Linked DNA regions of Homo sapiens: all the other regions are linked to region 1. Evidence: fine-mapped expression QTL. A gene starts in region 1. Each other region holds a variant in brackets. All regions are shown on one strand. Distances are from middle to middle. Region 1 holds the start of CRHBP (corticotropin releasing hormone binding protein). Region 2 overlaps S100Z (S100 calcium binding protein Z). Region 3 overlaps S100Z (S100 calcium binding protein Z).

What was found. PIP is the estimated chance that this variant, and not a neighbour inherited with it, causes the effect.
Region 2: its variant is the best candidate, but not a certain one, in a credible set for the expression of CRHBP in iPS cells (HipSci, PIP 0.52).
Region 3: its variant is the best candidate, but not a certain one, in a credible set for the expression of CRHBP in whole blood (TOPMed, PIP 0.55).

The regions. Positions count from the first base shown.
Region 1 is chr5:76,950,604-76,954,839 of GRCh38, forward strand. It overlaps CRHBP (corticotropin releasing hormone binding protein), which reads left to right and starts at 2,442. Exons shown (of 7, transcript NM_001882.4): 1 at 2,442-2,612; 2 at 2,998-3,091; 3 at 3,426-3,583. The coding sequence starts at 2,532. It also overlaps a transcript of S100Z not described here. RefSeq lists an enhancer at 3,168-3,854.
Region 2 is chr5:76,872,348-76,876,583 of GRCh38, forward strand. It overlaps S100Z (S100 calcium binding protein Z), which reads left to right. Exons shown (of 5, transcript NM_130772.4): 3 at 2,957-3,153. The coding sequence starts at 3,013. Among named protein-coding and RNA genes, the nearest start is that of S100Z, 24 kb to the left of the region's middle. The variant T/TC (reference allele first, on the strand shown) is at 1,688.
Region 3 is chr5:76,911,594-76,915,829 of GRCh38, forward strand. All of the region lies in intron 4 of S100Z (S100 calcium binding protein Z), which reads left to right. Among named protein-coding and RNA genes, the nearest start is that of CRHBP, 39 kb to the right of the region's middle. The variant G/T (reference allele first, on the strand shown) is at 2,702.

The sequences.
Region 1 (4,236 bases):
TAACATCAACACTGGAGAAGCTATCTGGAAAAATATGGAGAAAAACTGAAATATTTGAAAGTAATGGAGGTTAACATACAGGTAATTTCCAATCAGCATACTTGGGGACTCTGAGTTTTCCCAGAACATATTTAAAAAAAAAATCCAGTTTGCTTGAACAAACAACTTTCAAATATTAAGCTAATTGTTTGAATGACCAAAGCAGTCCATGAAAATAATTTATCCTTAGTCTTCACACATAGGCCTACTTATTGCCCAGAAAATTTTTCTTCGGCCTAATCCAAATTACTCTTCCATTTCTCTCACCTATTTTTAATACTTTCTCTCAGAGAGAATGGCTACCTGGCTTCTCCTTGTCTTCCAATTTAATCTTCTTAGTTTTTCTCGATAGCTTGTAGTTTCCATCTTTTAATTACCATTAATTTTTTTTTTTTTAGAAAAGGTAGTTTCCACTGGCTTAGTAGATATTTACCAAACTGGTGAAAACTACACATTAATTTATCCACCTAGAATTTGGTGGGAATGAGGTCCATCTTGTACTATAATTTGTGGATTAAGTAAAATCAGATGCTATGCTATGATGTTTGTAAAATCAGTCACTATGTTAGTGCTCATTCATCCCAGCTCTTGCTGTGTGTGGTTCCTGAGGAGTGGGCATCATGACAGCAGGGTGGGAACATCACTGTTGTCTGTGCACGTGCATGCGTGCATGTGTGTGTGCACATGTGCACATGTGCATATGCTTGTAAAGGGGCTGGCTGGAGAAGAATGTCTCCTTGGTGATGCTAACAAAGCAACATTGAGCTGGAGTGACATCAGGTGCCAGACCCCCTAAGAGGTAAAGGCAGAGGTCTCCAAGGTGGGTGCTGGACTGAATTCTGGGAACAGGCCAAGGGCTGTGGCTACATCAATGGGAAAGAGAAGAGGGCCTGTGGCATGCCTGGTGAGTGGGCCTAAGGCTCCCTCTAGGCACAAAAAGGGTGGGAGATAGAGCTGAAGATGGCCTGGCATGTTTGAGGCCAGCAAGTTGGGGTTAAGTTGTTTGTTTTTCTCCTCTTTTATTCCTCCCAGGTTTCTTTATAACCTTTTCAAAATTCAGGCATCTAAACAGCCCTTGGGATGAGAAGGACATGGTGGCCAGTGTCCATGAGCTTTAGGTACTCTTTTCCCTCTCACTGTCTGTGGTCTGAGGACTGCTTACAAAGTTGGACTGTGGCACGAAGGCCTCCTGATTAAACCAACAAAGAGGCCGCCTCTCCAGAGCTCAGAATTGTCCTGACATGAAAATAATCAAGTTCTGACACTGCCAGGATAATTACTGTTTAATTTCGAGTATTTTAAAACTGAAAATATAGCCATTCCTTCCTTTATAACTCTGTATTATGGTCTATTTGTAATAATTGTAATAACAATGCTTGGTGCAGAGACTGGAAAGGGGTAGGAAAGCCAATAGTGGAGCATCCTCATGTTTCCCACAGTTTTGGACACAAAGAAGAAATTCTCTTCTCTCCTGATAAGCAGAGATAAGCTTATACTTATTTCCGGATCCCTAAGTCATCTTTTTAGCCCTGCAAATTTGCTGGTGAGCAGTTACAATAAAGCTTCCTGGCAGTTCCTTCTACCAGAGTGTTAAAGTAATCCAGGTATTTGAAGGCACGAAATGGAATGACTTAATCTCATCTCTCAGTGGTTCAGATGGATGCGAAGGTCATGGCTACAGCTACCTGGTCTAGGAGTGTGTACATCATGTAAACATCCAGGTCAAGTGACAGAGCTCAGCTAAAATCCAGAAGTCCCCTGACACCAGAGTTAGTTTTCCATGAAAGAAATGCCTATAAGAAACTGGACCAGGATAAAGCAAAGAGTAAGGGGCAGGAAGAAAGCTTATAATTGCATTACTGCAATCTTCTGCAAAATCAGACTTCTGCTTCTGTTCCACCTCTTTAAAGCTGAAAATGCCTCAAGTTTCTTACTGAGAGACATGAGAAATTCCATGAATACTAAATTCTTTGACAATTTCTAGCATGGTTTCATCCAAGGTTATGTGATGAGGCTGCATAATATAGGCTCTATATGTTTGGGTATTTTATGCGTGTATGTAACTTTGTCACTTTGATTTGCAAAATGGAAAATTCCCTGAATGCCCACAGAAAAGTATAATGTAGCATTTAGCAGGTCAACAAAATGCACTCCCTTATTCTTTGTCTCCGCCTCATTCTCCAACACTTTAGTGCACTAAGTTGTAGTGACTGAAATCATTCTTGGTGAATAATGCTGGGCCACGCTGAAAATTTGTGGCTGAGAGCTGGACCCTCGTCATCGCCACGTACTCTGTCAATGAGACAGGGTAACCCATGGTTACTGAGCTCCGATCAGTTAAGGGGCAGAGAGCCTCCGCTCCCCACTGCTCTATAAAAGAGACCCAGCAAAGGGACCCTACCAGCTTCTAGCTCTCAGTCTGCGCGAGGGTGTAGGAAGGAAAGCCCAGGACCTCCGGAGCAGAGCACAGCAGCTGCAGAGGCAAGGCCAGCATGTCGCCCAACTTCAAACTTCAGTGTCACTTCATTCTCATCTTCCTGACGGCTCTAAGAGGGGAAAGCCGGTACCTAGAGGTGAGCCACCCCTGGACTGACCCATCTCACCTTCCTTGCGTGTTAGCCCTAGGCGGCAGGCAGGCTGCCTCTGCTCGCAGCCTTTTGGGGTTCGCTGTTTCTTCCCTCTCTGCTGGATGCTGTCTTGCCCCTGGTTTCCCCTATCCTGTTCTCCCTCCTTGCCTCTGAGCATCCCAGACTGCCTGCCTGCCTTCCTCTGGCCGCTGGGGATACCCTGGCCTGATGGAGAGGGTCTAAGACCTTCCCGTCTTCTCCGGACACGGGAAAACATTACCCCTCTCTCTTTATTCGCTATGCTGAGTGGCAGGGAGGGTGCCCCGCTCCTGGTCCCCTTTTTTATCCCCAGCCCTTGAACTTTTCCGGACTGACCTATGTTTCTTGCCAGCTGAGGGAAGCGGCGGACTACGATCCTTTCCTGCTCTTCAGCGCCAACCTGAAGCGGGAGCTGGCTGGGGAGCAGCCGTACCGCCGCGCTCTGCGTGAGTCGAGGCTGCCCGGCTCGCGGGCGCCCGGGACGCGGGGAAGGTGGGACTCTGTGCGGGGGGCAGAGGGCTCGCGGACATCTCGGGGAAGGGGCTGGCCGGAACCGCCAGGGGCGCGGTCCCCTTAGCTAAGGATCGGTCCGCGGAGGCGCGCCAGGAGCGGGAGAGGGTGGCGCGCCCGGGGCGCAGGAACCCAGCGCAGCCTAGGCTGGAAGTCGGGGCGCTGGGCACTACAGAGCCCGGGAATGGGGCGCGCGGAGAGCGGCCGCCCGAGGACGGCGCTGCGGCGGCTGCAGCCCGGGACTTATTGCCCCATGCCCTCCTCCCCCAGGGTGCCTGGACATGCTGAGCCTCCAGGGCCAGTTCACCTTCACCGCCGACCGGCCGCAGCTGCACTGCGCAGCCTTCTTCATCAGCGAGCCCGAGGAGTTCATTACCATCCACTACGACCAGGTCTCCATCGACTGTCAGGGCGGCGACTTCCTGAAGGTGAGGCGCCCACGGCCAGCCAACCTAGCCGGAGGGCGGCACGGGAGGGTTGGAAAGGGCTGGGGCGCTGCACCCAGCGTGGGGCTGCTGAGCGTAGGTAGCCAGTGGCACTTCTTAGACACTTCGCTGGTGCCCGAGTCGGAGAGGCGCGTTCGAGGACCCCCACACGGCGAGAATCTCGCCCTTACCCGAAGACCTCGACCCACACACATCCAGTGGGGCTGGGGCCGGTGCCTCTGGACGCTGCCATGGTTTAAATTCCCTTCTGGGCGCTTTCGAGGCCCTAGGAACTTCTAAAGACTTGAACTCGCAGCGCGGAACTCTGACGCAATCCAGGGCCGAGGAAAAATGATTAAAACCCAACAAGCTCGAGTGCTGGGGTCCACCAAGCGGGCCGTCTTGGTTAGAAGGCCCGCCCCACACGTCTCACATCTGAGCCCGCCTCGCTCCTGCTGGTCCACGCTCGGCAGAGCCGTTCCGAGAGCACAGAGGCTGTCTTCAGTGCGCGGGTGACCCGATTTTGGAGCAGTAGGGGACTGGCTGCCGAGGGGGCATCTAGATTGAGATAGGTGGGAGGGCAGGACAAGACCCCTAAGCTCACTGCCTCCTCGATTCCAGTCGTCAGACTCCATAAGTATAACAGGGCAGCATGG
Region 2 (4,236 bases), 78 kb before region 1:
CTCAAAATAAACCTCTTTAAGTATTTCACAGAGACAATGTAAGGTGGCTAAAGCCTGTAATCCCAGCACTTTGGGAGGCCAAGGCAGGAGGATCACTTGAGGCCAGGAGTTTGACACCAGCCTGGGAAACATAGGGAGACCCCATATCTACAAAAATAAAAAAATTAGTCAGGCATGATAACATGTGCCTGTTGTCCCAGCTACTCAGGTGGCTGAAGCAGGAGGATCGCTTGAGCCTGGGAGGTTGAGGTGCAGTGAGCCATTACTGGGCCACTGCATTCCAGCATGGGTGACAGAGCAAGACTCTGTCTTAAAAAAATAAATAAAATAAGGCTGGGTGCAGTGGCTCACACCTGTAATCCCAGCATTTTGGGAGGCCAAGGCAGGCGGATTGCGTGAGCTCAGGAGTTCAAGACCAGCCTGGGCAACATGGCAAAACCCCATCTCTACTACAAATACAAAAATAAAAATAAAAATTAGCCAGGCATGGTGGTGTGAACCTGTAGTCCCAGCTACTTGGGAGGCTGAGATGGAAGAATTGTCTGAGCCCAGGAGGTCGAGGCTGCAGTGAGCTGTGATGGCACCACTGCACTCCAGCCTGGGCAACCAGAGTCAGACCTTGCCTCAAAAATAATAATAAATAAATAAATAAAATAAATATTGTATAGAGTTTGTTTTTTCCATTCTGAGTAGGTGCTATGGTCATCCCCATTTAGACTAATGGGGAAAATGCAGCATAGATGCTAATTGACCAGCACAGGATCACACAACTAGTGGCAGAGGTGAGAGGTAAAGCCAGGCAGTTCATGCTTTTAGCCACCATGATACTGCCTCCCACACAGGAAAAATTTACAAAGGGTAATTACTAGGGTAGGGAATGGTGAGAGAGAATTTTACTATTTCATACTCCTAAGTATTCAAAATATTATTTTACCTATATTACTTTGACAATAAAAACTAACAATTTTTTTTTTTTTTTTGAGACGGAGTCTCACTGTCACCCAGGATGGAGTGCAGGGACGTGATCTTGGCTCATTGCAACCTCCACCTCCTGGGTTCAAGCAATTCTCCTGCCTCAGCCTCCCGAGTAGCTGGGACTACAGGCGTGCACCACCATATCCAGTTAATTTTTGTATTTTTAGTAGAGACAGGGTTTCACCATTTTGGTCAGGGTGGTCTCGAACTCCTGACCTCAAGTGATCTGCCTCCCAACGTGCTGGGATTACAGGATTGAGCCACTGTGCCCAGCCTGAATATGTTTGAAAATTTTGTGTTAGGTGTACAGTGAACACCTCCTGGGAACCTTGCAGGGAGGTTGCAGTGGAGTAGCCAGGCAGCAAGGCCAGGGGCAGATGGGATGGTTGAGGTTACATACTGACTACTTTGTTGAAGGGAAATAAAAAGGAGATCCTGGCTTGCTTTCCGTATAATTAAGTTTCAGTCCTGAGAGAACAGGCAGGATTTAAAAGCACAGTGGCCAATATCTGGCTTTGGTTTTTACATGGACTCTTTCTTTATTAAGTTTCTCTCACTTGGAAATCTGTTGTGGATTCCTGCACACACAGCTGCTCTGAGGTTTATTTCAACTTTTTTATTAGGTAATACATTCCTATAACTGAAAAAGTTAAAATCACTTAAAAAGGTGTACACTGGGAAGTCTTACTCCCAACCACTCTGTTCTACCCTT[T/TC]CCCCCCTTACCCCTGACAGCTCCCAACATAGTATTATATTTTGTTTCCTTTCAGTGACTCCTTAGGTAACTGCAAGCACACATACACATGTATTATTTCTTTTTTACACAGTTGGGAGCACTGCTTTGTACCTTTCTAAATCAGTGCGTGGAGCACTTCCTCTTTTTTTTTTTTTTTCAACTGTCCTTTGGGTTAGTTTAATCTACTATGAATTTACTCCCTTGTCCTTGCTATTGGCTTTGCTGAGTCATCTCCAGGTTGGAACTAGTGTTTCTTCTTTGCTCCCCTATTTTTAGAGTTCTTCCCCATCATCAGCTTCCTAGCAACTAATTGCATTTCTATCCACACTCCCCTAAAGAGAGATAAGGCTTCCTCTTGCTTTGTCTTTGCCTTCTTATCTAATGCACCCAATGAGCACTAGCCTTCTTCAATGACCCTTGGGGCAGCAGCTCACACCTGTTCATTTTGGTGATTAAATACGGAGCAGAGGCACCTCCCTTTGAATCTCTTGTCACTGGCAATTTTCATCTTCCCGGAAACAGGTGTGCTGGGGAGAACGTTTCCCCCTCCCCCACGTATAAATGCTTATAGTTTAATGGTAAACAACCATTGACAGAGCTGTGTATCTGTTGAACAGGTAGGTATTTTCCTTCCTATTTTTATTTATTTTTAAATTCTATATTTTAGTTTGACTTTGTACCTGTTACCTGGTTGTCTTATGAATATGCTGGAGCTGCTACCTCTTGGGGGTGTAGGGATTAGCGAGGAGAAACAACTCAGCTGCGAAGTGCTTATTTGCAGCTTGCCCCAGCAAGGGTGGAACACTCTTTAATGAAAGACTATTATTATTATTAATTTTTTTTTTTTGAGACGGCGTCTCGCTCTGTCGCCCAGGCTGGAGTGCAGTGGCGCGATCTCGGCTCACTGCAAACTCCGCCTCCCGGGTTCACGCCGTTCTCCTGCCTCAGCCTCCTGAGTAGCTAGCTGGGACTACAGGCGCCCGCCGCCGCGCCCGGCTAATTTTTTTTTGTATTTTTAGTAGAGACGGGGTTTCACCGTGTTAGCCAGGATGGTCTCGATCTTCTGACCTTGTGATCCACCCATCTCTGCCTCCCAAAGTGCTGGGATTACAGGCTTGAGCCACCGCGCCTGCGCAGACTATTATGTTTTTAACAACCATCACTTGTGTGGCGAGCTGACTCGGGGGATTGTAATATTCTGTTTTAATGAAAGTGTTGGTGTTTCCTCATCTGTTTATTCTGAACAAGTGTCTTCTCCCCGGGTTTGGTGGCCTGCTTCTGGAGTGGTCAGTTCTGCTGCCGACATGCCCACCCAGCTCGAGATGGCCATGGACACCATGATTAGAATCTTCCACCGCTATTCTGGCAAGGAAAGGAAGAGATTCAAGCTCAGCAAGGGGGAACTGAAACTGCTCCTGCAGCGAGAGCTCACGGAATTCCTCTCGGTGAGTCAGGCCTTTGTAAATGCTGTATTCATTTGAGGGTAGATGAGGTGCAGATTCCAGGACAGCCTTTGGGTTCATACTGTCCTGTGATTCTGTCACAAATGCAGCCAAATTTGTACAGAGATTCAAAATATAGGGGAAGCAAACACTGGAGACGTTTGTTTTCTGTGTACATAGGCATGTGCCCTTTTTCGTGTTACCTGGGGTTAGGGTTTCTAAGTGGTAAAAATTGTATTTTTGACTTTCACCAATTAACATTCTGGTGCGGCAAAGATGTAGCTAATTATAGCCAGAGTTATAGTTATAACTAGTTACAGCTAGTTATACCTGGAGCTTGGTCCAGCTGTCTGTAAATTATGTATTGGGCCAGAGGTGAAGGGGTACTTTACCTTCAGAGGTGGGGTACTTCATGCTATGGTGGCAAATTTTCTAGTGAATGGCAAATACTTAGAGAGCTTTGTCAGCCGAGCACAGACTGATTGGGATTGATAGAAGGATGTGTTTGGCCAGTGACCAGTGGGGTAGCAAACAGATTCATTTCTCAAAATAGCCAGGAGTTTGAGAGATTAATATATGAAGCCGTACATTGTAGCGTTTGGGGCCTCCTCCAAGGAAAACACTTCACGCTGGTGTTTATAGAGTTGACTTAAACTGATTTTTAGCACAATATGCTACCCTCGTGTGATGTTATTCTCTCCAAACCTTGTGTTAAGACTACAGAGACTGTTAATTACAACACATGTTTCTCCCCACCCTCTATTTGGGAAAAGCTCTATAAAGTATTTTTTAACTTAGTCTTCACGACATTTTTATAGTGATCTTAGAATTCCCACAAACTTTTCTTTTCCTCTCATTCCGTTTGGCTACTGTATTTTTTTTTTTTTCGGAGATGGAGTCTTGCTGTGTCTCCTAGGCCGGAGTGCAGTGACACGATCTCGGCTCACTGCAATCTCCACCTCCCAGGTTCGAGTGATTCTTGTGCCTCAGCCTCCGGAGTAACTGGGATTACAGGCATGCACCACGACACCCAGCTAAGTTTTTTGTATTTTTAGTAGAGACAGAGTGTCACTATGTTGGCCAGGC
Region 3 (4,236 bases), 39 kb before region 1:
TTCTCAAGTCCAGGCACTCTGGTCCTTCAGTATGTGGATAATTTACTTTTGGCTACCAGTTCTGAAGCCTCATGCCAGCAGACTACTCTAGATCTCTTGAACTTTCTAGCTAATCAAGGGTACAAGGTGCCTAGATCGAAGGCCCAGCTTTGCCTATAGCAGGTCAAATATCTAGGCCTGATCTTAGCCAGAGGTACCAGGGCCCTCAGCAAGGAACAAATACAGCCTATACTGGCTTATCCTCACCCTAAGACATTAAAACAGTTGCGGGGGTTCCTTGGAATCACCGGCTTTTGCTGACTATGGATCCCTGGATACAGAGGGATAGCCAGGCCCCTGTATACTTCTCTTTATACATCACAGAGAGTGCAGGGCTAGCTCTTGGAGTCCTTACTCAGACTCGTGGGACAACCCCACAACCAGTGGCATACCTAAGTAAGGAAATTGATGTAGTAGCAAAAGGCTGGCCTCACTGTTTAAGGGTAGTTGCGGCGTTGGCTTAGTGTCAGAGGCTATCAAAATAATACAAGGAAAGGATCTCACTGTTTGGACTACTCATGATGTAAATGGCATACTAGGTGCCAAAGGAAGTTTATGGGTATCAGACATCCGCCTACTTAGATACCAGGTGCTACTCCTTGAGGGACCGGTGCTTCAAATACATATGTGCATGGCCTCAACCCTGCCACTTTTCTCCCAGAGGATGGGGACCCAATCGAGGATGATCACCAACAAATTATAGTCCAGACTTATGCCACCCGAGATGATCTCTTAGAAGTCCCCTTAGCTAATCCTGACCTTAACCTATATACCAATGGAAGTTCATTTGTGGAGAGTGGGATATGAAGGGCAGGTTATGTCATAGTTAATGATGTAACCGTACTTGAAAGTAAGCCTCTTCCCCCAGGGACAAGGGCCCAGTTAGCAGAACTAGTGGTGCTTACCTGAGCCTTAGAACTGGGAAAGAGGAAAAAAAAATAAATGTGTATACGGATAGCAAATGTGCTTATCTAATCCTACATGCCCATGCTGTAATATGGGAAGAAAGAGAGTTACCTCTGGGGGGAACCCCCATAAAATACGACAAGGAAATCATGGAGTGATTGCACTCAGTGCAAATACTCAAGGAGGTGGCAGTCTTACACTGCCAAAGCCATCAAAAAGGGGAAGGAGAAGGGAGAACAGCAGCATAAGTGGCTGGCAGAGGCAAGGAAAGACCAGCAGAAAGAAAAGAGAGAAAGAGACAGAAAGAGAGAGAGAGAGGAAGAGACAGACACAAAGAAGGAGTCAGAGAGAGAGAGAGAGAGGAGAAGAGACAGAGACAAATAGGGAGTCAGAGAGACAGAGAGAGTCAGAGAGAGGAAGAGACAGACAAAAAGGGAGTCAGAAGGAGACAAAGAAGAAGTCAAAGAGAAGAAAGAGAGATGGAAGTAGTAAAGAAAAAACGTATACCCTATTCCTTTAAAAGCCAAGGTAACTTTAGAACCTATAATTGATAATTGAAGGTCTTCTCTGTAACCCTATAACACTCCAATACCACCTTGTTGTCAGTGTAAACAAGGGCGTAGCCTGAAAGCACTGAGGCCACTGACAACCCATAGCCTTCCTATCAAAAATCCTTAACCCAGCAGGTTTCCTAACAGGGGATCTAAATCTTAACTAATTACCATACAAAGGTCCGATCAGACCAAGGAGGAACTCCCTTCAGGACAGGAAGATAGATGTTTCCTCCCAGGCGATTAAGGGAAAAAGACACAATGGATATTCAGTAAGTGATAAAGAAACTCTTGTAAAATCAGAGTTAGGAAAATTGCCTAATGATATGTCTGCTCAAACCTGCGAGCTGTTTGCACTCAGACAAACAGAATCAGGAAGGAGCCATCTTATAGAATCAGGAAGGAATTATCTATACCAATTCTAAGTTAATATGGACTGAACAAGGTTTTATTAACAGCAAAGAAAAAATCCCAAACTTACAAGATTTTCAACTAAAGTTTGCTAAAAGTTAACAGTGTAACATGTATTATCCTACTACCACACACTCTCAAAGGATTTCTCAGACAGTTTGCAAGAGATAACAAAATCTATCCTTACTCTACAATCCCAAATAGACTCTTCGGCGGCAGTGACTCTCCAAAACCGCAGAGGCGTAGACCTCCTCACTGCTGAGAAAGGAGATCTCTGCACCGTCTTAGGGGAAGAGTGCTGTTTTTATACTAACCAGTTAGGGATAGTACGAGATGCTGCCCGGCATTTACAGGAAAAGGCTTCTGAAATCAGACAACACCTTTCAAGCTCTTATACCAACTTCTGGAGTTGGGCAACATGGCTTCTCCCCTTTCTAGGTCCCATGGCAGCCATCTTGCTGTTACTCACCTTTGGGCCCTATATTTTTAACCTTTTTGTCAAATTTGTTTCCTCTGGAATCAAGGCCATCAAGCCACAGATGGTCTTACAAGTGGAACACCAAATGAGTTCAACCAACAACTTCTACCGAGGACCCCTGGACTGACCTGCTGGCCCTTCCACTGGCCTAAAGAGTTCCCCTCTGGAGGACATTACAACTGCAGGGCTCCTTCTTTGCCCTTATCCAGCAGGAAGTAGCTAAAGCGGTCATCGGCCAAATTCCCAACAGCAGTTGGGGCATCCTGTTTAGAGGGGGGATTGAGAGGTGAAGCCGGCTGGGCTTCTGGGCTGGGTG[G/T]GGACTTGGAGAATTTTCTGTCTAGCTAAAGGATTGTAAATGCACCAATCAGAGCTCTGTGTCTAGCTAAAAGGTTTGTAAACACACCAATCAGCACTCTGTAAAATGGACCAATCAGCTCTCTGTAAAATGGACCAATCAGCAGGATGTGGGTGGGGCCAAATAAGGGAATAAAAGCTGGCCACCCAAGTCAGCAGTGGCAACCCGCTCAGGTCCCCTTCCATGCTGTGGAAGCTTTGTTCTTTCACTCTTCGCAATAAATCTTGCTGCTGCTCACTCTTTGGGTCCGCACTAACTTCATGAGTTGTCACACTTACCGTGAAGGTCTGCAGCTTCACTCCTGAAGCCACTGAGACCATGGACCCACCAGGAGGAAAAAGCAACTCCAGACGTGCCACCTTTAAGAGCTGTAACACTCACCGCGAAGGTCTGCAGCTTCACTCCTGAAGCCAGCGAGACCACAAACCCACTGGAAGGAACAAACAACTCCTGACGCACCACCTTTAAGAGCTGTAACCCTCACAGTGAAGGTCTGAAGCTTCACTCCTGAAGTCAGCGAGACCACGAACCCACCAGAAGGAAGAAACTCCGGATACATCTGAACATCTGAAGGAACAAACTCCGGACCATCTTTAAGAACTGTAACACTCACCGCAAGGGTCTGTGGCTTTGTTCTTGAAGTCAGCAAGACCAAGAATCCACTGGAAGGAATCAATTCCGGACACATAAGGCCGGGCACGGTGGCTCACGCCTGCAATCCCAGCACTTTGGGAGGTCGAGGCAGGTGGATCACGAGGTTAGGAGATCAAGACCATCCTGGCTAACACAGTGAAACCCCGTCTCTACTGAAAATACAAAAACATTAGCCGAGCATGGTGGCAGTCACCTGTAGTCCCAGCTACTCGGGAGGCTGAGGCAGGAGAATGCGTAAACCTGGGAGGCGGAGCTTGCAGTGAGCTGAGATTGTGCCACTGTACTCCAGCCTGGGTGACAGAGTGAGACTCCATCTCAAAAAAAAAAAAAAAAATGCTGGGCGTGATGGCTCACACCTGTAATCCCAGCACTTTGGGAGGCCGAGGCGGGCAGACCACCAGGTCAGGAGATCAAGACCATCCTGGCCAACATGGTGAAACCCCCTCTCCACTAAAAAAAATACAAAAAAAATTAGCCAGGCATGGGGGTGAGCGTCTGTAGTCCTGGCTACTCCGGAGGCTAAGGCAGGAGAATGGCGTGAACCCGGGAGGTGGAGCTTGCAATGAGCCGAGATCACACCACTGCACTCCAGCCTGGGCAACAGAGCGAGACTCCGTCTCAAAGAAAATAAATAAATAAAAAATAAAAATAAATAAATAAATAAAAAAGATAAAGTGGTAGGCTTAAGCCCAAACATATCAATAGTTACATTAAATGTAAATGGTTTAACTATAAAAATTAAAATACAGTAACTAGCATAATGGATTAAAAACATGCCCTAATTATATGTTCTCTACAAGAAACTCACATCAAATACAATAACGTATGTTGAAAGTAAAAGG